Homo sapiens: one gene and its partners. The protein of the gene in region 7 interacts with the protein of the main gene of each other region in a biochemical or structural test. Each region holds a gene or a part of one and is shown on either strand. Other genes may lie near its edges.

Evidence for each region.
Region 1: the proteins of GOPC (region 7) and SDC4 interact in a test that uses a peptide from one of them, tested with the Homo sapiens proteins (one large-scale study listed by IntAct).
Region 2: the proteins of GOPC (region 7) and PDGFRB interact in a test that uses a peptide from one of them, tested with the Homo sapiens proteins (one large-scale study listed by IntAct).
Region 3: the proteins of GOPC (region 7) and KCNJ4 interact in a test that uses a peptide from one of them, tested with the Homo sapiens proteins (one large-scale study listed by IntAct).
Region 4: the proteins of GOPC (region 7) and OR10G3 interact in a test that uses a peptide from one of them, tested with the Homo sapiens proteins (one large-scale study listed by IntAct).
Region 5: the proteins of GOPC (region 7) and CACNA1A interact in a test that uses a peptide from one of them, tested with the Homo sapiens proteins (one large-scale study listed by IntAct).
Region 6: the proteins of GOPC (region 7) and CTNNA2 interact in a test that uses a peptide from one of them, tested with the Homo sapiens proteins (one large-scale study listed by IntAct).

The regions. Positions count from the first base shown.
Region 1 is NC_000020.11:45,331,425-45,334,924, reverse strand, and holds part of SDC4 (syndecan-4 precursor), read left to right. Parts: intron 1-1,855; coding exon 1,856-1,902; intron 1,903-3,500. UniProt on the Homo sapiens protein: Cell surface proteoglycan which regulates exosome biogenesis in concert with SDCBP and PDCD6IP.
Region 2 is NC_000005.10:150,117,846-150,121,345, reverse strand, and holds part of PDGFRB (platelet-derived growth factor receptor beta isoform 1 precursor), read left to right. Parts: intron 1-23; coding exon 24-142; intron 143-335; coding exon 336-458; intron 459-1,222; coding exon 1,223-1,334; intron 1,335-1,779; coding exon 1,780-1,879; intron 1,880-2,493; coding exon 2,494-2,599; intron 2,600-3,495; coding exon 3,496-3,500. UniProt on the Homo sapiens protein: Tyrosine-protein kinase that acts as a cell-surface receptor for homodimeric PDGFB and PDGFD and for heterodimers formed by PDGFA and PDGFB, and plays an essential role in the regulation of embryonic development, cell proliferation, survival, differentiation, chemotaxis and migration.
Region 3 is NC_000022.11:38,425,827-38,428,513, forward strand, and holds the end of KCNJ4 (inward rectifier potassium channel 4), read right to left. Parts: intron 2,346-2,687; 5' UTR 2,307-2,345; coding exon 969-2,306; 3' UTR 501-968; downstream 1-500. UniProt on the Homo sapiens protein: Inward rectifier potassium channels are characterized by a greater tendency to allow potassium to flow into the cell rather than out of it.
Region 4 is NC_000014.9:21,573,577-21,577,076, forward strand, and holds part of OR10G3 (olfactory receptor 10G3), read right to left. Parts: intron 1-3,500. UniProt on the Homo sapiens protein: Odorant receptor.
Region 5 is NC_000019.10:13,293,480-13,296,979, forward strand, and holds part of CACNA1A (voltage-dependent P/Q-type calcium channel subunit alpha-1A), read right to left. Parts: intron 1-3,500.
Region 6 is NC_000002.12:79,911,551-79,915,050, reverse strand, and holds part of CTNNA2 (catenin alpha-2), read right to left. Parts: intron 1-3,500. UniProt on the Homo sapiens protein: May function as a linker between cadherin adhesion receptors and the cytoskeleton to regulate cell-cell adhesion and differentiation in the nervous system. Required for proper regulation of cortical neuronal migration and neurite growth.
Region 7 is NC_000006.12:117,568,012-117,571,511, forward strand, and holds part of GOPC (Golgi-associated PDZ and coiled-coil motif-containing protein), read right to left. Parts: intron 2,945-3,500; coding exon 2,849-2,944; intron 1,848-2,848; exon of another isoform or gene 1,726-1,847; coding exon 1,561-1,725; intron 1-1,560.

The DNA of each region.
Region 1 (3,500 bases), on a different chromosome or scaffold from region 7:
TTCAGTTTTCTAATCTGTAAAATGGGAATAATAAAGATAGTACATCAGTGTTGTGGGGACTGAACTGACTTAAAGCTTTTGGCACCTACCAAGCACTCAGTACGTGTGTGTTTGGTTTAAAAAAAAAATAAATTTTATGGCCGGGCACGGTGGCTCATGCCTGTAATCCCAGCACTTTGGGAGGCCAAGGCAGGCAGATCACGAGGTCAGGAGTTTGAGACCAGCCTGGCCAACATGGTGAAACCCCGTCTCTACTAAAAATACAAAAATTAGCCAGGTGTGGTGTCGAGTGCCTGTAATCCCAGCTACTTGGGAGGCTGAGGCAGGAGAATTGCTTGAACCCGGGAGGCAGAGGTTGCAGTGAGCTGAGATCACGCCATTGCACTCCAGCCTGGTGACAGAGCAAGACTCTGTCTTGAAAAAAAATAAAAATAAAAAAATAAATTTCATTATGTGCATACAACATGATATTATGGGATACATATAGATAGTAAAAATGTTACTACAGTGGAGTTAAGTAATATATCCATCATCTCACATAGTCGCCCAGGAAATGTTTTAATATTGCAGTTAGAGTTTTCTTTCTCAAAAGTTAATTCCCTGGGGATCTTGTTAAAATGTAGATTTTGGCCGGGCGCGGTGGCTTACACCTGTAATTGAAGCACTGTGGGAGGCCAAGGCAGGCGGATCACAAGGTCAAGAGATCGAGACCATCCTGGCCAACCAACATGGTGAAACCCCGTCTCTACTAAAAATACAAAAATCAGCTGGGTGTCATGGTGCACCCCTGTAGTCCCAGCTACTCGGGGGGCTGAGGCAGGAGAATCGCTTGAACCCAGGAGGCAGAGGTTGCAGTGAGCCGAGATGGCACCACGGTACTCCAGCCCAGGCGACAGAGAGAGACTCTGTCTCAAAAAAAAAAAAGTAGATTTTGATTCAGTCAGCCCTGAAATTCTACATTTCTTCTTCTTTTTTTTTTAACCAATGAATTATTTTTACTCTTTTTAAATAAGTGAAATATTAGCTTTAATGTTTTCTGATCATGACAATATTTTTAGATAAGAACATTTTAAACATTCAACAGTAAGAGACTATTGAAAATAAATGAAATTCATTGAATAGAAGTAATTAAAATAATAATGTAACTCTTTAAGCATTGTAATGGAAAGATGTTAATGATATATTGTTACGAGCCCATTATTGGGAAAAATGTATTTAGGAATACGTATGGAGGGAATTTATTTATTTATTTTTTTGAGACGGAGTCTTGTTCTGTCGCCCAGGCTGGAGTGCGGTGGTACCATCTTGGCCCACTGCAACCTCTGCCAACCGGGTTCAAGTGATTCTCCTGCCTCAGCCTCCCAAGTAGCTGGGATTACAGGCGCGTGCCATCACCCGTGGATAATTTTTGTATTTTCAGCAGAGACGGGGTTTCACTATGTTGGCCAGGCTGGTCTCGATCTCCTGACCTCAAGTGATCTGCCCGCCTTGGCCTCCCAAAATGCTGGGATTACAGGCGTGAGCCACCGCGCCTGGCCTTGAAATTCTACATTTCTAACCAGCTCTCAGGTGTTGCTATTGGTTTTTGGATCCACACTTTGCAGAGCAAGGGTTTAGAGCTGATGAAGCCTCTGCCCAGCTGCCAGCTCACACATTCCTGTGAAAGAGCCAGGGGGTGGGTCTGAGGAGCCCCATTTTACAGATGAGATGACTGAAGTAGGGGTGGGGAAGCTCGCTTGCTGGACATTGAGCATTTGGAAGCTGGTTGTAAGGTGGAGCTCCCACCAGTCCTGGCTGAAGGGGTCATTTTCCTGGGGTAATGGACCTCACTCACACAGCTATTCTGACCTTACAGATGACTTGGAAGACTCCATGATCGGCCCTGAAGTTGTCCATCCCTTGGTAAGTAGCTACATGCTTCTGCCTCTTCCACTTTGCTCCTCTATAGCAGACCTATTGGGAGAGGCAGAAAATACAGCCCCCATAGGCAGAATAAGTGAGGGGTCTTACCCCACTATGCGGGAAGGCTTTTTAAAAATCTGGCCCTGGGGTGGGCATGGTGGCTCAGGCCTGTAATCCCAGCACTTTGGGAGGCTTGAGGTCAGGAGTTCAAGACCAGCCTGGGCAACACGATGAAACCTGTCTCTACATAAAATACAAAAATTAGCCAGGTGTGGTGGCATGTGCCTGTAGTCCCAGCTACTTGAGAGGCTGAGGTGGGAGAATGGCTTAAGTCCAGGAGGCAGAGGTTGCAGTGAGCCAAGATTGTGCCAGTGCACTCCAGCCTGGGTGACAGAGCCAGACTGTGTTAAAACAAACAAACAAACAAACAAATCTGGCCCCAGGCTCATTTTGTAGGTTGCTGGTAGGCCATCCTCCCTGCAGGGATAGTCACCGTCAACACCAACTCCTTTTCTCTACATTTATAGCTATTTCCTAGCATTGATAGAAAAGTATATATATAGGCCGGGCACAGTGGCTAATGCCTGTAATCCCAGCACTTTGGGAGGCTAAGACGGGCAGATCACCTGAGGTCAGGAGTTCGAGACCAGCCTGGCCAACATGGTGAAACCCTATCTCTACTAAAAATACAAAAAATTAGCCTGGCACAGTGGCGTGCGCCTGTAGTCCCAGCTACTTGATTGGGAGGCTGAGGTAGGAGGATCGCTTGAACCTGAGAGGCAGAGATTGCAGTGGGCAGAGATTGCACCATTGCACCCCAGCCTGGGCGACAGAGACTCCCTCTCAAAAAAAAAAAAAAAAAGTATATATATATAATTCTATGAACTGCGTTTTTCACTTAGACTGGTCATGAGTATTTCCCTGCATAATTTAATGCTCTTGTCATTTTTATAGGCTGCGTAATAGTTTACCTGATTCCCTTTATTGACGGAAAAATGGCTTATAATTTGTTAACATTTTAAAATTATAACACTGCAGCAAACATCTTTTTTATTTTTGCAAAGCAATAACAAGTTTATTAAGAAAGTAAAGGAATAAAAGAATGGCTACTCCATAGGTAGAGCAGTGGCATTGGCTGCTGGTTGCCCATTTTTATGGTTATTTCTTGATTATATGTTAAGCAAGGGGTAGATTATTCATGAGTTTTCCAACAAAGGGGTGGGCAATTCCCAGAACTAGGGGCTCCTCCCCTTTTTAGACCATATAGAGTAACTTCCTGACTTTGCCAGGGCATTTGTAAATTGCCATGGCACTGATGGGAGTGTCTCTTAGCATGCTAATGTAGTATAATTAGCATATAATGAGCAGTGAGACCAACAGTTTCATTGCCATCCTGTTTTTGGTGGTTTTTGGCAAGCTTCTTTATTGCAACCTGTTTTATCAGCAAGGTCTTTATGACCTGTATCTTGTGCAGACCTCCTATCTCATTCTGTTACGTAGGATGCTTAACTTACTGGGAATGCGGCCCAGCAGGTCTCAGCCTTATTTTACCCAGCCCCTATTCAAGATGTAGGCACTCTGGTTCAAACACCTGACAT
Region 2 (3,500 bases), on a different chromosome or scaffold from region 7:
GTGACCCTCTGCTTCTCCTCTAGCCCCTGAGAGGACCTGCCGAGCAACTTTGATCAACGAGTCTCCAGTGCTAAGCTACATGGACCTCGTGGGCTTCAGCTACCAGGTGGCCAATGGCATGGAGTTTCTGGCCTCCAAGAACGTACGTGTGGTGTTGGTGGGGCAGAGTGGGGGCTGTGGGGAGGTGGGTCACCCAGCCAGCCAGCATCCTCCAAGAGCACACCAGGGTGGCCTCTCGCACATGGGCAGTGTTGTATTTTCCCAAAGCCCTTGACATGAAGGGTCTTTCCCCACAATTGTCCCCAAGGCCTCAGCTCCCCTCTCCCCAAACCCAGTGCGTCCACAGAGACCTGGCGGCTAGGAACGTGCTCATCTGTGAAGGCAAGCTGGTCAAGATCTGTGACTTTGGCCTGGCTCGAGACATCATGCGGGACTCGAATTACATCTCCAAAGGCAGCGTGAGTACCTTCCCTGGCCCCTGCAGGGCAGTCACAGTGCCTGTGACCGCAGGAACAGATTCCCTCCTGACCAGTGTGGCTGCAGCTCATAGGAAATCTGTGTGGGGCTCCTTGTGGCCTGCCCTGACAGCAGTGATGGGCTGTGCCTGCCCAGCTATGTGTGCAGGGACAGGATGGGGAGCCGCCCAGGAGTGCATGGAGCAAGTATAGCGGCGGGGAGGGCTGGCTATAATGGGTCCAGGGTGGGGGAAGGGGGAACAGGCCGAATGTGTTGTTCCAGTGGTGGTGGGCAGAGGAAGAAGCCCAGGTGACAGGGCAAGAAAGATGAGCAGGTCACATGCAGTAGCAGGGATTGGTCTGGTTAAAACGTGATCATCCTGCCTGTCTCTCATCTCCCCACTTTTCCGCAAACCCCAGATGGAGGGACGCTAGGCCCAGAGATCAAAGGCAGCCAGGATAAGAGCTTGGGGGGTGCCTTGACAAGTCCCTGGCTCCCACACTTCACTACTCAGACCCTGGGGCTTTTCCCCAGGGACAGGGGCTGCCTTGTCCCCAGCTAGTGAGAAAGGAAACAGCCTCTGGTCCTCTGACCAGCCCTGGGATGGACATGGGAACTGTGCTGCGCAGAGACCAGGGCCCTCACAGGGAATGGGACGGAGAAGTGGTTGTGGGTGGGAGCTGCCAGATACCCTCCTCCCATCCCAGGTGCAGAGTGGGGCTGAGGTCCTTCCTTGCACTCAGCACCTGTCCTGACCTCCCTACAGACCTTTTTGCCTTTAAAGTGGATGGCTCCGGAGAGCATCTTCAACAGCCTCTACACCACCCTGAGCGACGTGTGGTCCTTCGGGATCCTGCTCTGGGAGATCTTCACCTTGGGTATGCTTGCTTCCTCCTCCAGCCCTCAGCATCCTGGCCTGGTGTCTACCTCGACCACTCATGCCTCTGGCCTGGTGGGGCTATGGGACGAGCCCTGATACAGGGATCCTGGTTCAGGTCCCAGCTCTGCTACCTTCTCCCTGCTGTGTGATGTTAGCAAATTCTTTGCCCTCTCTGGGTCTCTTTATCTCCCTGTCTGAGCATTGACAGGTTTGAACAGTGACATCAGAAAGCCTGCTTGGCTCTCACATTCTGGCTGTCTATCCTGGGGAGGGTTGTGGTCTCTGTTCAGAGCCCATGAAGGAGCCCACAGTTCCAAATGCCAGGGGCACTGCCCCCTTACCCATACCAGGGCCAGCATGGCTCTCCTTGTCCTGTAGAAGAGGGTGCCCTGCCACTTTTCCACCCCTGAGCCTGTGTATCTCTTGTCTCTGCTCCCCAACAGGTGGCACCCCTTACCCAGAGCTGCCCATGAACGAGCAGTTCTACAATGCCATCAAACGGGGTTACCGCATGGCCCAGCCTGCCCATGCCTCCGACGAGATGTGAGTGGAGTCTCATGCATTTGGGAGGATTTTGTGCTGCAAACAATAGATATCCAACTCTACTGGCTTAAACCAAAGATGAGAGATTTGTTAGCTCAGAGATCTAGAAAGCCTTGGTGTAACTGGATCCAGCCATTCAAAGGATGGCATCAGGAACCTCTTGTTCTAGCCCTGAGCTCTGCTTTGCTCTGTGTGGCCTCATTTTCAGGCCAGCATTGCCCAAATGGCTACCAGCAGTGCCAGTCTCATGTCCTACTGCTTGCTCCATAGTGCCAGCAAAAGTCCCAGAGCTGACCTTCAAGGGCTCAGGTGGGGTCACATGCCATCAAGAACCAACCGTGGAAGCTGCAGGGCTGAAAACTGTTGGCGAAGGTTGGCTCCTGTGCTCACCCAGGCGTAGTCAACCTGTGGAACCATGTGGAATGGGGGCTCTGCGAGGGCCTCCCAAGGGAATATCCAGAGACAGGACCTCTGGATACACCCAGCCACCACTTCCCTCCAGCTCCTTTCCATGGCTCACCTTGTTCTGAGAGGCAGCAGCCTCCTGCTCCCCCAGCCCTGCCTTGTCCCCTGAACCCTGGGCCAGAGGCCCTGACCCTTCTCCCTATCCCCAGCTATGAGATCATGCAGAAGTGCTGGGAAGAGAAGTTTGAGATTCGGCCCCCCTTCTCCCAGCTGGTGCTGCTTCTCGAGAGACTGTTGGGCGAAGGTTACAAAAAGGTATGTTGAGGCAGGGTAGGGGTGGAGCACGGAGAGCTCTGGTGCAGAAGTCAGACACCGAGTACAAGGCTCTGCGTGATGGGCTGGCATTTAGGGGACCACCCTTTGTCCTCTCTGGGCCTCAGTTTCCCTGCTGGTTCTAGGAGGGGATGGGCTGGCGCTGTGAGTTTATTTTAGCAGCAGAGAGCTTTATGAAATGGAATCCTACATGGAAGCTGATCGATTAGATGCAGGGAGGGGGCCTAGAGCACTGTCTGTCCTGCTGCCTCCCTCAGGCCTTTACCTCCATACCGAACCGTGGGGCTCCTTCAGAAGTGTGAATAACCCCAGGTTACATGACCATGAACCGCCTGACCACTTGGATCCTGTCACAGGATTGTCCAAGGCCCAAAGAGCCAGTAGGGCCCTGAAACCCTGCCCCGTCCAACAACACGGGTCCAAGTGAGGAGGAAATACACATGGCCTTTGACACAGAGGCAGCTCCTTCTTTGGGTCCATTTCTCACCCCCACTGCCCCCCGGGGATGGTCCCAGGGACCTGGGAGATGGAGTAAGGTCATCACCACTTCACAGCAAAGGAAACTGAGGCCCTGAAGAAGGACGCTGAGGCAGCATGAGAGCCTGTGCCTGTCTGCTCTGAAGTGGGGGAAGAGTTAGAGTCCTGGGTGCTGGTCTGATAACTGCCCCTCCCTGGGTGGTCCTGAGCTCACCATGCCTTGTAAGATTCTATGTGAGGTAGGAGGGCAGCTCAACCATGTGGCTTGGGCAAATCCCTTTCCCCTCTGAGCAGCGGGGGTCTTATTTATACAAAGGGGGATGGGCTCGGTTAGAAGATCCCTGAAGGCATTTCTGGCCTGACCATCCCTGTTTCTTTGGTTCTCCCTGCCCCGGGAGCAGAAGTA
Region 3 (2,687 bases), on a different chromosome or scaffold from region 7:
ATCTTTACTAAAAATACAAAACTTAGCTGAGTATGGTGGCTCATGCCTGTAATCTCAGCTACTCAGGAGGCTGAGGCAGGAGAATCGCTCGAACCTGGGAAGCGGAGGTTGCAGTGAGCCGAGATTGCTCCATTGCACTCCAGCATGGGCAACAAGAGCAAAACTCCGTCTCAAGAAAAAAAAATAATAATAAAAAATAAAAAAAAAATATATATATATATATATATATATGGTTACAAACTCTGTTGTCAATCTGGGCTGGGCCCGGGGCTGGAGGGACTGCAGGGAGGGAGGGATGGTCCCTCATCCCACCCCTCAGAGTCCCTCCTCTGCACCCAAACCCAACACCATCCAAGGGCCAAGGTGGCTGGCGTTGAGGGCCTCAAGGGGCCAGCCAGCTGGGCAGGGGAAGGCGCTAGGCTTGATGGGCTGGGTGGGGAGGGGTGCACAGAGAGGGACTGCATCTCCCTGTCCAGCAGGTAAAAACGGCAGAAAGTGAATTTGGTGTCTCCATCTGTCTCCATTTATAGATATTTACAAAAGAAAGTCATGAGCAACAGGCCACAGTCATGCAAAAGAAACGCACCCCCCCCTCCCCAAACTAACCCCCTGCCCACCCTGAAACCCCGAGATGTCCCCCGCCCAGCAGTCCAGCCACCTTCCCCAAGGTTCTGAGAGCAAAGAGGGCACGTCCTTGAAGAGTCAGTGGGGGAAGGGTGGTGGATCCGGGGACCTAGAGCCACCAGAAGTAGGCGCTGGCGGAACTCAGGCTGATCGGGGCCGAGCTCTTCCCAGGCCTGGGTGCTGGAGTCAGGAGGAAGGGGTCCCCCAGTCTTTGAAACCCCCACCTTCCTCCAGAAGGTCCACGGAGCCAGGGTTGGCTCTGTCCTGAGTGTGGGAGGGGGTGTCCTGGCATCCCACCCCCGGCAGAGGCTCTTGTGGGCAGTGGTGAGGGCCGGGCCTGGAGGTCAGATGGCAGACTCCCTGCGGTAGGAGATGTTGTCCAGCGGGAGGGAAGCCTGCATGCGCTCCAGGTCCAGGTGGCTGCCGAACTCCAGCATCCGGATGATGCCCGCCTCCTCCTTGGAACCCGCCTCCAGGCCCAGGCCTGCGGCCACCGCGGCCGCCGCAGCTGCCTCCTCCTCCATCTCCTCTTCCTCCTGGCTCATAAGGGCCAGCTCGTTCTCGTAGCAGAAGGCACTGGGAGGGGGCGGTGGGGCGGGCAGCACGGTGATCTTACTCTCCTGCAGCTCCCGGGCCGAGCAGCAGGGCGTGCCGGCCACCTCGTAGGTCTTGTGAAAACGTGAGTAGTCCACCTTGTAGTGGCTCTTCTCCTCGAAGACCACAGGCTCAAAGCGGTGGCCCCACAGGATCTCGCTGGCCAGGTAGGAGCTGCGGGCCTGGGTGGTCATGGCCGTGGCCTCCACCATGCCCTCCAGGATGACCACGATCTCAAAGTCCTCCGACTCCAGCTCCTCCTTGCCCATGCCATAAAGCGGGCTGTCCTCGTCGATCTCGTGGACAATGATGATGGGCGACACCAGGAAGATGCGGTCCAGGCCGATGTCATAGCCCACGTTGAGGTCCCGCTGGTCCAGGGGCAGGTACTCGCCCTCCTGGGTCATGTAGGGCTTGATGAGCTGGGCCCGCACGTGGGCCTCCACAATGTGGCTCTTGCGCAGGTTGCCCACGCGCCACATGAGGCAGAGCTTGCCGTCGCGCACCGAAATGACCGCGTGGTGGCTGAACAGCAACGTCTGCGCCCGCTTCTTGGGCCGCGCCATCTTGGCCATGATGGTGCCAATCATGAAGGAGTCGATGACGCAGCCCACGATGGACTGGACCACCACAGCGATGACTGCCAGCGGGCACTCCTCTGTCACGCACCGGAACCCATAGCCGATGGTCGTCTGCGTCTCCACCGAGAACAGGAAGGCACCCAGGAAGCCGTTCACGTGCATGATGCAGGGCTTGGGGGCCACCGGGGCTGCTCCGCCACCACCCGCCGCCGGGCCCCCCGCCGCAGGCACCCCTGGGCTGGCCTCCAGGTCACCGTGGAAGAAGGCGATACACCAGAAGAGGAGGCCGAAAAAGAGCCAGGAGACAAGGAAGGCCGCGGAGAAGATCATGAGCATGTAGCGCCAGCGCGTGTCCACGCAGGTGGTGAAGATGTCCGCCATGTAGCGCTGCGACTTGTTGCTCAGGTTGGCGAAGTACACGTTGCATTGGCCGTTCTTCTTGACGAAGCGGTTGCGGCGCTTCCGCCGGGGCACGTGGGCCTGGCCGTTGCGGCTGTGTCCGTGCATGTCCTGAAGCCGGCGTGGTCACCTGGGAAGACGCAGGGCCTGCGGAGGAGAAGCCGGACAGGTGAGATGCTGGGGAGCGAGGGGCTCCCTCGGGGCCACTCAGACTCAGCCCCAAGACTCTCAGAAGCAGGTGAGCCTGGACCAGGACCTAAGACTTCCTCTGCCCCGGCAGGCGGAGGGTGGCAGCAGAGGTGGCTCTGATGACAGGGTCTGAGCCAGTGCCACCCAGTCCGGCCCAGCTTAGAGACTGGGGTCCATAGACCAGGAAGCTAAAGCCACAAGGATCCAGGTCCTAGTCCCTGCCCCTCAACACTGCCCCTCCGGCCCTCCTATGCTCACTGTTCTGGAAGCTTCCTGATGCCCATCTTGGTTCCTCCCTGT
Region 4 (3,500 bases), on a different chromosome or scaffold from region 7:
CGGCAGAATTGCTTGAACCCAGGAGGTGGAGGTTGTAGTGAGCTGAGATTGTGCCACTGCACTCCAGCCTGGGTGACAGAGCAAGACTCTGTCTCAAAAAAAAAAAAGTACGAAGTTTCAGTTAGACAGGAAAAGTGAGTTTTCAGGACCTATTGAACAGCATGGTGACCATAGTTAATAATAATATATATTTCAGATTGCTAAAAGAGCTTATTTTAAGTGTTCTTACTACAAAAAAAGACAAGTATGTGAGGCAATGGATATGTTAGTTTGATACAATCATTCTACAATGTATATGCATCTATCAAAACATCACATTTTTAATTTAACTATTATTTATTGATTAAAAATAAAAGTTTAAATAAAACAGGCTTGATGAAAATTTTTACTGAAAAATACTCATGACTTGAGGTAGGATGTCAAAAAAATTGAAATTGATTGATTTGGCTGGGCGCGGTGGCTGACGCCTGTAATCCCAGCACTTTGGGAGGCTGAGGCAGGCGGATCACGAGGTCAGGAGATGGAGACCATCCTGGCTAACACGGTGAAACCCCGTCTCTACTAAAAATACAAAAAATTAGTCGGGCGTGATGGTGGGCACCTGTAGTCCCAGCTACTGGGGAGGCTGAGGCAGGAGAATGGCATGTACCGGGGAGGCGGAGCTTCCAGTGAGCGGAGATTGAGCCACTGTACTCCAGCCTGGGCCACAGAGCAAGACTCCATCTCAAAAAAAAAAAAAAAAAAAAAAGAAATTGATTGATTTTTTTTTCTCTGGACTGATTTCCATCCACTCAGAAGGAGGAGAGTAAGATTAACAGGGAAATGTCAGGAGCTTTCTGATTAATGATTCTCTCTACCTTCACTCCTGTGCAGGGCAGCATTCTGCCTTGCTTGGGTCAGGGGACTGTGGAGAGCAGGGAACTGGCAACTCTGGTGAAGAAGTAAGTCATCGTAGACAGATGGTCCTGCTGCTGGCTGAGAGCAACAAATGTAAACATTATAATGGATCTCAATCGTTAGGTTGCCATCATAATGGATCTGGTCATTAGTTCACTTCTTGGTTCTGAGCGAGTCTCAAAGCTCCTCTGGGACTGGGTGTGGTGGCTTATGCCTGTAATCCCAGCACTTTGGAAGGCTGAGGCAGAAGGATTGCTTAAGCCCAGGAGTTTGAGACAAACCTGGGCAACATAGCAAGACCCTATTTCTATAAAAAAAATAAAAAAAATTTACTGGGCGTATTGGCACGCACCTGTGTTCCCAGCTACTTGGGAGGCTGAGATGGGAGGATTTCTTGAGCCCAGAAGGTCAAGGTGAACCACTGCCCTCCAGCCTGGGTGATAGAGTGAGAGACCCTGTCTTAAAACAAAAACACAAACAACATACAAAAAAGCCAACTCCTCTGGGTTTCAATTTCTTCACTGGGGCTATGAGGATGCGGAATGAGACTGTGGATCCAATTTTGACAAATAGTGAAAAACAAGGGATAGTTACATTCAAGTCTTTTTTGTTTTATTTTGTTTTTTGAGACAGAGTCTTGCTCTGTCGCCCAGGCTGGAGTGCAGTGGTGCGATCTCGGCTCACTGCAACATCCGCCTCCCGGGTTCTCGCCATTCTCCCGCCTCAGCCTCCTAAGTAGCTGGGACTACAGGAGCCCGCCACCACACCCAGCTAATTTTTTGTATTTTTAGTAGAGACAGGGTTTCACCGTGTTAGCCAGGATGGTCTCGATCTCCTGACCTCATGATCTGCCCGCCTCGGCCTCCCAAAGTGCTGGGATTACAGGCGTGAGCCACTGTGCCTGGCCTCAAGTCTTTTTTTTTTTGAGATGGAGTCTTGCTCTGTCACCCAGGCTGGAGGGCAGTGGCACGATCTCAGCTCACTGCAACCTCTGCCTCCTGGGTTCAAGCAATTCTCCTGCCTTAGCCTCCTGAGTAGCTGGGATTACAGGCATGCGCCACCATGCCCGGCTAATTTTTGTATTTGTAGTAGAGATGGGGTTTCACCATGTTGGCCAAGCTGGTCTCGAACCCCTGACCTCATGATCTGCTCGCCTCGGCCTCCCAAAGTACTGGGATTACAGGCGTGGGCCACTGCCCTCGGCTCAATAGTCTTTACATTAAACACTTAGCTTTAAAACTGCTGTACCCAAGCTCTTTCAGAGCTTAGCTCTCATCATTTAACCATCTCTGTTATGAAACTTAAAAAAAAGGCAGTAAATCCCGCCACCCCATGCCATTTTATCCTCTTTCAAGTCAATAAAATGCAGTTTATAAATTCTTCAGTTTTAAACATTATAGCCACAGGATCACAGCGATGGCTGAACTTCAAAAAGCTGACCGCAATCCTCTTCCAGATGCCAGAGCTACAGATGCTGGCCTCCTCCCCGCGTTCCTTGACTTCAGAAAGTACAGAGGCTCAAGTTCCCACACAGGTTCCTTGGGAAATTCATGGCAGTGCACAATGGTAGCCCTGGGCTGAAGGAGCTCAGGTGGCTGCTCTGGTCTGTGTGTCGTGTCATGGGATGCTATAGTTTTCTGGGGTCACTGAGGTCTGTTGTTAAAGTGTCCAGATTTAGAAGCCTGATTTGGTTAGGTCTCTCTGGGGGAATCAGGCTGAGGGAAATCAGTTCACACTATTCAAGTACCTGAGAGAATGACTTAAAAACTAAACAAATAATTTATTACTTTACAGTGGGAGATCTTGCTCCCATGTCTGAAATGATGTGTCTACTGCCCAGGGCACCCACGTATTAATACTTCATGGTCCCTGGAAATGAAATTAGGAATCAAATGTGTAATTCTGAGTTTTGAATCACAGCAAGGGGAATTTCATGAAGCACACTTAAGTTAGGTCACAGTGAACTACACCTGGTAAATCACACAGCATCTGTATCTAAGGGAATACTTCAATTTTCCCTTCAGATACAGTTATCTTTTTCCCTTGGGCAGTAACGAAGATACATCAACAAAGTTTTATTCTAATTATTTTCTCCCTGAATTTCTATCTTTTTAGATTGCCTTTGTTATTTCCATTGGCTCTTTTTCAACATTTTTCTAACTTTTTAGAGTTCCCTAATTATTTTTCCCTGATTTATTTTTCATACTGTTTTCTTGTTTGCTTTGGAGAATATTCTAAGATTTACTCCCTAAAAAGTGTTATTTCTTTTGCAAAATTTTCCATTGATAGGGAATGACAGTCCACCCATAGCATGATGATTCTTGTTTTATTCAACCAGAGAATAGAATTTTCTAACTTTGTCCTTAGATTTCAGAACCATCTTAAAGGGAGGAATGAGAGGAAAGAGTGCAGTTTTATTTGTAATACCGAGTATCTTTATTGGGTGTGATTTCATCCCAGTTACCTCTTTTTGTTTTCTTCTTTTTGTTTCTCTAACTTTTTGCTCCTCAGTAAGTTATAAATATTAATAGAAAAACTTCCCTTTACCTCTGATCTGTTAAGACCTTTCTCCCTGTGTCACTGCCATTATCATAAACCTCCAA
Region 5 (3,500 bases), on a different chromosome or scaffold from region 7:
CTGTCTCCCCGGCTGGAGTGCAGTGGTGCGATCTCGGCTCACTGCAAGCTCCGCCTCCCGGGTTTTACACCATTCTCCTACCTCAGCCTCCCGAGTAGCTGGGACTACAGGCGTGCACCACCTACGCCCGGCTAATTTTTTTTTTTTTTGGTATTTTTAGTAGAGATGGGGTTTCACCATATTAGCCAGGATGGTCTTGAACTCATGACCTTGTGATCCGCTCACCTCGGCCTCCCAAAGTGCTGGGATTACAGGCATGAGCCACCGCGCCCGGCTCAGTTAAATCTTATACCCAGAGAAGGAGGTAGCTACTATTCTTATCTTCATTTTATAGATGAGGAAATGGAGGCCCAGAGAGGAGTGAAATTCTGAAAGTCACACAGCCTGGAAGTGATAGGGCAGGAATGTGACTGCCTGCCCCAAAGTCCTTGCCTTTCACAACCAGGCTTTGCTGCTCTTGTAGTTTCCAATGTTTACTGTTGTCTTTCAAAAACTCTTCCTGGCATATTGTTAGGGAGAGACATTTTGTCCCTGTCACTCTGCCTCCTTCAATAACAGTAGATCTGTTAATAAGGCTGATAATAACAGTAATATTAGTAATAATAGCAAGAGTAATTAATAATCATTGGTCTTTCTTTTTTTTTTAGACATGAGGTCTTGCTCATCTCTAAAATGAGCAATGCTACTGCAATCCAACCTGGGCAACAGAGCAAGACCCTGCCTCAAAAAAAAAAAAAAAACAAACAAAACCCTAAATAAACCAACAAACTAAAGGCACAGATAATTATAAGCAAGATTTTTCACCTGTGTGAGGAGCACTAGAAAGTCATGAAGAGGAAAGGATAATTCTTTTCCATATGAGACTGTCTTGTACATGGTAGGGTATTTAGTATACTGGCCTCCCATTCTCTAAATGCTCAGGCTGGTCTCGAACTCCTGGGCTCAAGCAATCCTTTGCCTCAGCCTCCTGAGTAGCTGGGATTACAGGTGCATACCACTGTACCTGGCTTTTTTTTTTTTTTTTTTTTTTTGAGACAGAGTCTTGTTCTGTTGCCCAGGCTGGAGTGCAGTGGTGTGATCTCAGCTCACTGTAACCTCTGCCTCGCAGGACAATTCTTGTGCCTCAGCCTCCTGAGTAGCTGGGATTATAGGCGTCCACCACCACGCCTGGCTAATTTTTTGTATTTTTAGTAGAGACAGGGTTTTGCCATGTTGGCCAAGCTGGTTCTGAACCCCTGACCTCAGGTGATCCACCTGTCTCTGCCTCCCAAAGTGCTGGGATTACAGGCGTGAACCATCACACTGGCCTGTACCTGGCTCTTCATTGGTCTTTACTATACAGAGAGTGCTGTGGTAAACACTTTATTCCACCTAAACTCCCGTTTTGATCTCTCATTCCCCTGAGTGACTGACAGCCCCAGAGTCTCATCAATGCACCTTCAATTTCTTTGTCACTTTCTCGTCACTAGTCATGTCCTGCAAACTGGCCTCCTTCTGGTCCACCCCAGGGCCTTTGCACATGCTGTTGTTAGACTGAAACACTCTACTCCCTTCTCAGATTGCTCCTCTGGAAACCTGCCCTGAGACCCTGGGAGCAGTTTCTTGGTCGTATTTCTCAGAATGTCTCAGACCACTTCACTTGCAGTTGTGTGACTGAACTCACAGCATGAGCTTAGAATATAGTAGGCACTTAGTAAATACTAACTGAATGAATGCATAAACCCATAGGAGAAGATTGAAGCGAAAGAATGACCTAGAACAATGGTTTTCAGAAAACTGTTGTAGAACTACGTGGAAACCTAATAACATAATGATTGAGGGGCACTGCAGGCACTTAGAGAATGGTAGGCAGTTATACTAAATACCCTACCATGTACATGACAGTCCCATATGGGAAAGACTTATCTTTTCCTCTTCATGACTTTCTAATGTCCCTCAAAGAGGTGAAAAATCTTGCTTGTAATTACCTGTGCTTTTAGTTTGCTTGTTTGTTTGGGTTTTTTCTTTCTTTCTTTCTTTTTTTTTTTTTTGAGACAAGGACTTGTTCTGTTGCCCAGGTTGGAATGCAATGGCATAATCATAGCTCACTGTAATCTTGAACTCCTGGGCTCAAGCAATCCTCCTGCTTCAGCCTTCCAAGTAGCTAGAACTACAGGCACCTGCCGCCACACCTGGCTAATTAAAAAACTTCTTTTGTAGAGATCGAGGTCTCCTTATGTCGCCCAGGTTGGTCTCGAACTCCTGGCCTCAAGCGATTCTCCTTCCTCAGCCTCCCAATGCACTGGGATTACAGGTGGGAGCCACTGCACCTGATCCTGTGCTTTTAGTTTAAACCTAACTCTTTTACATAAGAACACAACATATTTTTTGTATGTTTTTAATATACATTGCATTTTCCTGCAATGCAACTATTAAATAAATGGAAGAAAGACTAGACTCTTTTGTATATGGAACTTTGCCAAGAGGTGTTCAACATTGTGGAACATCTTGACACTGCTGGCAACTCCCCTCATGTGGTTTGAATTGTCCACACAACCCAGAGTTAGCCATCATTTGTGCCTGTCACTTCATGGTGATTTTGTGTATGGTGTACATATCAGAATTACTTCACTATGTCCTCCAGAGTCTCATTACTCAAAATGTGGTCCCTGGACCAGTAGTATCAGCCTCATCTGGGAGCTCGTTGCAAATGCAGAATCTCAGGCTCCACTGAGTCCTTAGCCCTACGGAATTACAATTTGTGTTTTAACAAGATCCCTGGGGATTCACATACACATTAGATTTTGAGAAGTGCTGGCCTACCTCATATGTCATACAACAGGATCACTTAAACCCATCATTAAAAAAATCAATATTATGCCCTGATGGTAATATAAAAGAGGACTAAGAGCAGGTTAATTTGTAATAGGACAATGTCTACGATGTCTATTTTAATGGGTAAGTTGTTGAGTCCCTATATGCAGAATCACTATAGCATCTGCTAGAAAGTATTACAAAATGTCGTTATGAAAAAGAGGATGCTGGTTCTGAATGGATAAGTTGCTGGCCTGGAAGATGCCTCAAAAGCTTTCTAACATTTTTATTTATTTTTAAAAGGTGAGGTCTCACTATGTTGCGCAGGCTGGTCTTGAACTCCGGGGCTCAAGTGGATCCTCCCACCTTGGCCTCCCAAAGTGCTGGGACTACAGGCATGAGCCACCACATCCCGCTGCATCCAAAGCTTTGAAACTCTGCTCTCCCTTCAATTCTAACGGCCCAAAGTGCCTTTTCTTTTTCTTTATTTTTTATTTTATTTTTTGAGACAAAGCCTTGCTCTGTCGCCCAGGCTGAAGTGCAGTGGTGCAATCATAGCTCATCATAGCCTAGACATCCTGGGCTCCAGTGACCCTCCTGCCTCAGCCTCCCAAGTAGTTGGGACTGCAGGTGCATGCCACCACATCTGTTTAATTTTTTATATTTTATAGAGATGGGGTCTGCCTCTATTGCCCAGACTGGTCTCC
Region 6 (3,500 bases), on a different chromosome or scaffold from region 7:
TGTATAGGCCATAAAACCGGGCTGGAAATAACCTTTTTAGATCCTATTTTAGTCCTCAAATCCTCACAAGTGGGCTCCTTCAGGAACCCACTTTATGTTAAATTCTACTCTCTAACAAAGGCTATGACAATGCTTCAAACACTTGTAATATGTATATATGTTCCCATATCAATATGTCTTCATGTGCTTTTAATACCTTCTATATATTAATGGTTTATAAATTGTTAACCCCAGGGATCCACTTAGATGCTTCAAGAGGCTTGAAAAAAAGTTGGATCCAAAATTTAAAAAAATATACAATTGTAATTATTTTTAAAAATACAATTAAAAATGTCTCACCATATTTTACAGCAGAGAACAGCAGCATTACTTTATGCCACCAGGATCTCTGCCATCATTTGAAAATAGTTTAACTGCATGATTGTTTAAGAAAACTGTAGCTCTAAATTAGTCTTAAAAAAAATTCGAGCTACACAGAGAGTTTATGCATATAAAATTGAAACAGGTTGTACAGCAGCACAAGACACAACAAGGACCAGGCACATCTGCTCATTGCATATTCTCATCATAGGCCTAACCATGAATTGTGCATAAAGAAGTAACAGTTTAATGAATTTCCTTATTGTTCTTCATTTACAGTTTTAGTACCTAGAATAAGTAGTAATTTTTCTCCTTACAGTTCTGCATTACAGTTTAATACTTAGAATAAGTATTAAATTTTTCTAGTCTTTTATAAGAATGTGAACCATACTTAGACATTTTTGGTGATACAACGTTGAAACAAAATTTTTCTACTTAACTCCCCTTTCAAATGCAATCTGTCTAGCAGAGTGTCCAGGCATTGCCAAGTAAGCTACTTTCTTTTTTTTTTTTTTTTTTTTTTTGAGACGGAGTCTCGCTCTGTCGCCCAGGCTGGAGTGCAGTGGCGGGATCTCGGCTCACTGCAAGCTCCGCCTCCCGGGTTCACGCCATTCTCCTGCCTCAGCCTCCCGAGTAGCTGGGACCACAGGCGCCCGCCACTACGCCCGGCTAATTTTTTGTATTTTTAGTAGAGACGGGGTTTCACCGTTTTAGCCGGGATGGTCTCGATCTCCTGACCTCGTGATCCGCCCGCCTCGGCCTCCCAAAGTGCTGGGATTACAGGCGTGAGCCACCGTGCCCGGCCCAAGTAAGCTACTTTCAACACCCAAGTAAATCAGAATTTCCTGTGCAACCAAAACCAAATGAAGATATCATATGAGCTGCAATTGATACAACTGCAACTGTCATTCAAAATGCAAATCATCCAAAATGCAAATATTGATTTTATGTTCATAAAACAGACACATTCTTCTTACTAGTTAATTTATAAGCAAATTTTATTTATAGTCAGTATTTGAATACTTTATGCCACTTCTATTGCTATCCCCTGGCCCAAGAGACCATCCTCTCATGAATATTACGGGACGCAGGGCCTCCTCACCTGTCCTCCTGCTTTTACGCCTTTTGCCTTTGTGGCCTGTTCTCAGCACCTGAATCATGGCATTTTTCACTCACTACTGTGCAATGGCCTCTCATTCCATTAGAATGAAAGTCAAATTCTGTATAATGGTTCACCACACCCTGCACCGACTGATGCCTCAGCACCATACAGACGCCATCTCCTGCTACCCCTCTACTCACAATAGCTGCTGTGACTCCCATGGTGCTTCAAACGGGTGGGTGCACCAGGCACCCATTCACAGCAAGGCCCTTGACCTTGTCATCCCTTCCTCCTCAAGGCCTCTTTGCTTCCTCACTTCTGAGAAGTCTTTGATCTAATGTCATCCTTTCAACGCACCTTCCTAGGCCATTCTTAACTTCAGTACTACCCAGCGTCCTCTAACTCCCATGTTTTAGACTTCCTCTTTGCATATATCACTATCTGAAGTGACTCTTGCTCATATCACTTAGTATTTACTGTCTGTCTCCTCCCACAACAGTGTAAGCTGCATGAGAGCAAGCAGAGAATTTTACCTGTTCTGGTACTTTCTGTATCCCCAGAAGCCTAGAGCAATGCCTGGCACAAATGGCCAGCAGACAATACACATTTGTTGAATGAATAAAATATTCTAAATTTGCATTCCTCACAATATTCTTATTAATAAAACCCATAAAATGTTATGTTTATACTGCCACCAAAGAAAGCTGCATAAAATTATAAGTTCCCAAGGAAGGTTTATGTGTTCACTATAATTTGGAACTATTTAAAGTACTCAGCATAATACTTCAACCACCACACTGACGGCACTCATCCCAATTAACATCTATAGGCCGCGCATCCTTTTAAGTCTCTCTCTACCCATTAGTCTTCACATATGTACAATAATAATAGTTTACTTAAAGGGGGATTATTTTTTAAGAATCTTTTCACTTTGGATTATATCTTCAACTTGATAAAGCAACTTAAGTCTAGCCAAGGCTTTCCTAAAAGAATTCCAACCATCCTTTCTACCACCGCCATGATCTGTGATGATTTTCACCCCATGCCTCTGTTCACCCAGCCTTTTTTCAAATATCACCACTTCTTTTAACTGCACAATTCTGTTGACATCTTCAAGTTGCACACCCACGTTCATTAAGTAGAATACACATTTGTGGAAATATCTAACATGTGACTGCTATCCTATTGAGCTCAATGGAAGCTACGTGGCTAAGTCATAGCCCATGCTCCATGAAGACCCTTTTTCTATCAGGTGTGATACACAGCTTCTCTCCACAACCTCTGTCTCCCTCTGTGTCATACAATTTGGCATGTATACAATTTTAGAACAGCTTCAGCCACAAGCAAGCATTGTGTAAGTGGAATGTTCATCTGGGACTGATGAGGAGATTTTTAGAAAACAGAAATGTCAGTTATGCTGATTTTTAAATATTTTCAGTTTAACAACTTGTTTATCCTAATGGTACTGCCTAGCACATTAGGATGAAAACTTGCAAGGTGATCATTTGATAATACCTTTATTCTCAGAGCTTATGAAATTGAAAGAGAAAGATAACAGCCCAGGAACGATAGACTGATTTACTGTTTGCTGTTAACTACAATAGACTTTTCAGTCAGGGCATGGATGTGTATGTGTTTTTGTATTCATACATGCTATATCAAAATAAATACAAATTGACTGTGCAGCAGGAGAAATGAGTGCACTGGACAGGAATTATGAAGGTGATCTGGCTGCATCCAATTCTACCTTGAAATCACCAAACAAGTGTGAAGTCCAACTAAATGTTATACAGTTTACATAAATGTCAAGTAGGAGGTGTTTTATTTCAGGCTTTGATCATGATGGTTCAATGTGAATAGAACTTGTGCATTTTGAAATTTAAGCACTATACCCATTGATGTATTGTCTGTAACCATGTCAAAATAGAAACTAAGATTTCAATAAAGCACAAAACATTCCTGCATCACGAGGCTGCGAACAGAAAACAAAAAGTGCCTGGAGTCAATAAAATACAAAAATCCATCAGCTCTGCTGATC
Region 7 (3,500 bases):
AAAACCCATCTCTACAAAAAAAAAAAAAAAAAAAAAAATTAGCTGGCCATGGTGGCAGGCATCTGTAGTCTTAGCTACTCAGGGGGCTGAGGTCGGAGGATCTGTTTGAGCCTGGGAGGTTGAGGCTGCAGTGGTCCGTAATTGTGCCACTGCACTCCAGCCTGGGTGACAAAGTGAGATCCTGGCTCCAAAAAAGAAAAAAATGTTACAGATCGTTTTATGTTAAAAGAAAAATTTCCAAGCTATAATTGTCATTTAATAAGAGACTCCAACCACTACATATAAGTGTGGTGTTGGCAATTCTGAAAACTATGGCTTGCCTTTGCTCAAAAGAAAACACGGCATTTTTGACTGCTACTCACTAAGTTAGTCTCTTTGGTGCTCTTCTTTCCCAGCAGTTTAAGGTTATACCTCAGAATTTTAATATGTGCTTAGTTAGCATTTCCTTAAAACTTATGGCTGCCCATTGATAGCTCCTTCACCAGTTATCCCACTCTTTTGCTACTGGATGACAGTCAAGATGGATTGATAAAACACTAACTTAAGAGAATAGCGTAGCATTCTTAGATCTCTCTTGTCAGCTAATGCTTTAAAAATACCATTTTGCAGAAAGAGACAGATGATGCAGTGGTCTTCAGCAAAGTTTTAGATGACAGAATTAGATCTGTGAGTAGCTGTCATGGAGACACAGATTTCAGGCTTAATATGAGAAAAAGCTTTCTAAAAATCAGTACTGTATTACAATGGAATGGACTGGTTGATATCAGCAAGTCTTCCCTGTAATGTAATTATTGAAGTAGTGATGTTGCAAAGATTTATGCATCATATAGAATTGAACCAATGAACAATATTCACTTTCAACTCTGAGATGCAATTCTACAGAGGCATACCACACTGATAATCCAAGAAACATCTCAATGTACTACCAATGCCTCTAATTCCCTCAACTCTATTCTTGAAAGAAATAAAATAAAACAACATTTTAAGTACAACTGTATGACAAATATGACTCCTGAGTATGAATCTCAATTCTATAATTTATTTGCTTGGCAACTTTGAGTAAATCCTTTCATCGCTAAGAACTTTAGTTTACTCATTTTAAGAGAGTTGGGCTAGATAGTTTCTATGTGTGATTTCAATTTTAATATTCCATGACTAAAATCAATCTACTTCTAGCACTGTCTTTTCTGTAATACCTTATATATAGTGTTCTAGGCATTAAGGATGTTGTTTTTTCAGTCTCAGGTCCTGTTCTGAGTACTTTATATGTATTAACATACTTAATCCTCACAGCTTTCTTTCAATCCCTCCCACACAGGTGAGGACACTGAGGGACAGAGGACTTAAGTAACTTGCTCAAAGTTATGAAGTAAACAAAATGGAATGGTCCATTTTCAGTAAATCTGACTGAATGTCAGCTATAAAAGCATTAAATCAAAGGAAACAAGAACTATGTGTAAACACTTTACTACTTTAGAAACTTCGTAGGGAAGTATACAGTGTTCAATAGATTCATAACCAATTGATAGATCCAGTTCTAATTACATGAAGGGAATTTACCTGCTGAGAAAGAATAGTTACAGCTTCTTTATGCTTTGTGTCCCTTAGGTTAACTCCGTTGACTGCCAAAATAGCATCCCCAACGTGCAGCCCTCCGCATCTATCAGCAGGTTGCCCCGGATGGATCTCAGAGATGAGGATTGGAACACCATGTTCTTTCCCACCCTAACAACAACAAAGGGCAGTAAATTAAAGTACTCTTTGTAAGGTACAGTTACCGATTAATCTAGAGATAAAATATTTTCTTAAAAATATATTTCATTAAACACCTATGCTGTCTCTATAAATGCTGGGTAAAATTTTATTTGCTACTTAAGTAATGGTAAAAATTATCAGAGTATTGAACAGAAATTGGCTAAATTCTTAAATTAAAAAAAACTTATGTGTTAGTACTCCATAGCACCATTACATTTTATCAAGTCTAAATCACTACGAATGACAAGACCAATTATTTTAGGTGCCACAAAAATAATTTTAAGATTATAAGATAAATTTCAATTTCAGAGAAGTTAAAATATGAAAATATATGCAATGTAGAATTGAAAAAATGCAGTATTTGGTACCTATCACTCTCTAGCTTATATCATTGTTGCGTGTGTGTAGGGGTGTGTGTGTGTGTCTTATTTGTCCTGCTAAAATGTATGCTCTTTGAAGGCAGCACATAAAAAAAAAAAAGGTAAGTATTCAAGAAATATAGATTAGATGAGCTTTTTATTATAAGAAACATTTCTACATTAAGCAATACTAAAAAAACAAATGATCTTGCTCAGTGCCTAAGTATTACCAAATGAAAATTAAAGCCACCTTATTCATTAAAGCACTGAGATGACAACAAAATGACTCCTAAAGGCATCGAATTTAAAAAAAAGAATATATAACATTTGGACCCAAGAGCCAGTGAAATCTGACAGCTAATAAATGAGGCAAGAGAAAGATACACGTACTCCGAGAGAGAACAATACAATCTGAAGCCATTTAACATAGAAGAAAACAGCCACGTCTATTCCCAAGGGCTCCTAGAGGCATCACAGTATATGGCACAGAACTATTAAGTGAATCATAATAAAAATGTTAAACTATGCTTACTAAAGGTACACTTAATAGTTGCTAGGAATATTTATTTCTTAAAAAAATATTTACACAAAAGCAAACATTTATCCCCATGGGGATAAATTTTAGTTATTTAAAAAATATATCCAGAATATTCTGTTCCCCAGTGATGTCCAACAAAGGAGCATGATTATACTAGATAACTGTAGAAAATGATACTGGAAGTACTACTTCTTACTGTAATTGAAATGCCAAGGCCTTCATGATCTTCCTTAAGGAGGAGAACTTTTCTAATTGGACCAACACCTTGGCTTTTCTTTAGGGAATCTTGATCCTTATTGGGAGGAAAAAAGAAGAAAAAGTAGTATCATTTAAATAGCATACCAAATAGAGTAAACTCATACTATATAACTTGCTTTTAGAAATCTGTATTAACTTCCTGGAATGGATAAACAGTATAGGGTTAAGAAAGTAACAGATAAAATGGAAAAATGAAAATAGCTATTCTGTTGATGCAAAATTTATAGATGATATTCTCACCCTTTTGCCAATAATGTTTAAAATATTGATACATCTCTTTTTAAATTGTAGGGCATTATAAAAGAAATGATTTCCAGGAATTAATTGAGGAACAAATATCCTCAAAAAATAAAAGTGTCTATCTTCACTGGATATCTTTAAGATATACATTCATTTTAGCTGAGTTGTAGAGTTGAAAAACAAATTTCCAATTGGACCATTAATTACTTATACATTCCTTGGTGCTCTGGAGTCTACCTCTTAAATAAAGGGCCTTGATCCACTAATAATCTTTTCTCTGGTACCCTTACTCTTTCTGTCTCTACTAAGCTGTTTTCCTACTCAGCAGATAAATGAATCACAAGCCTCTT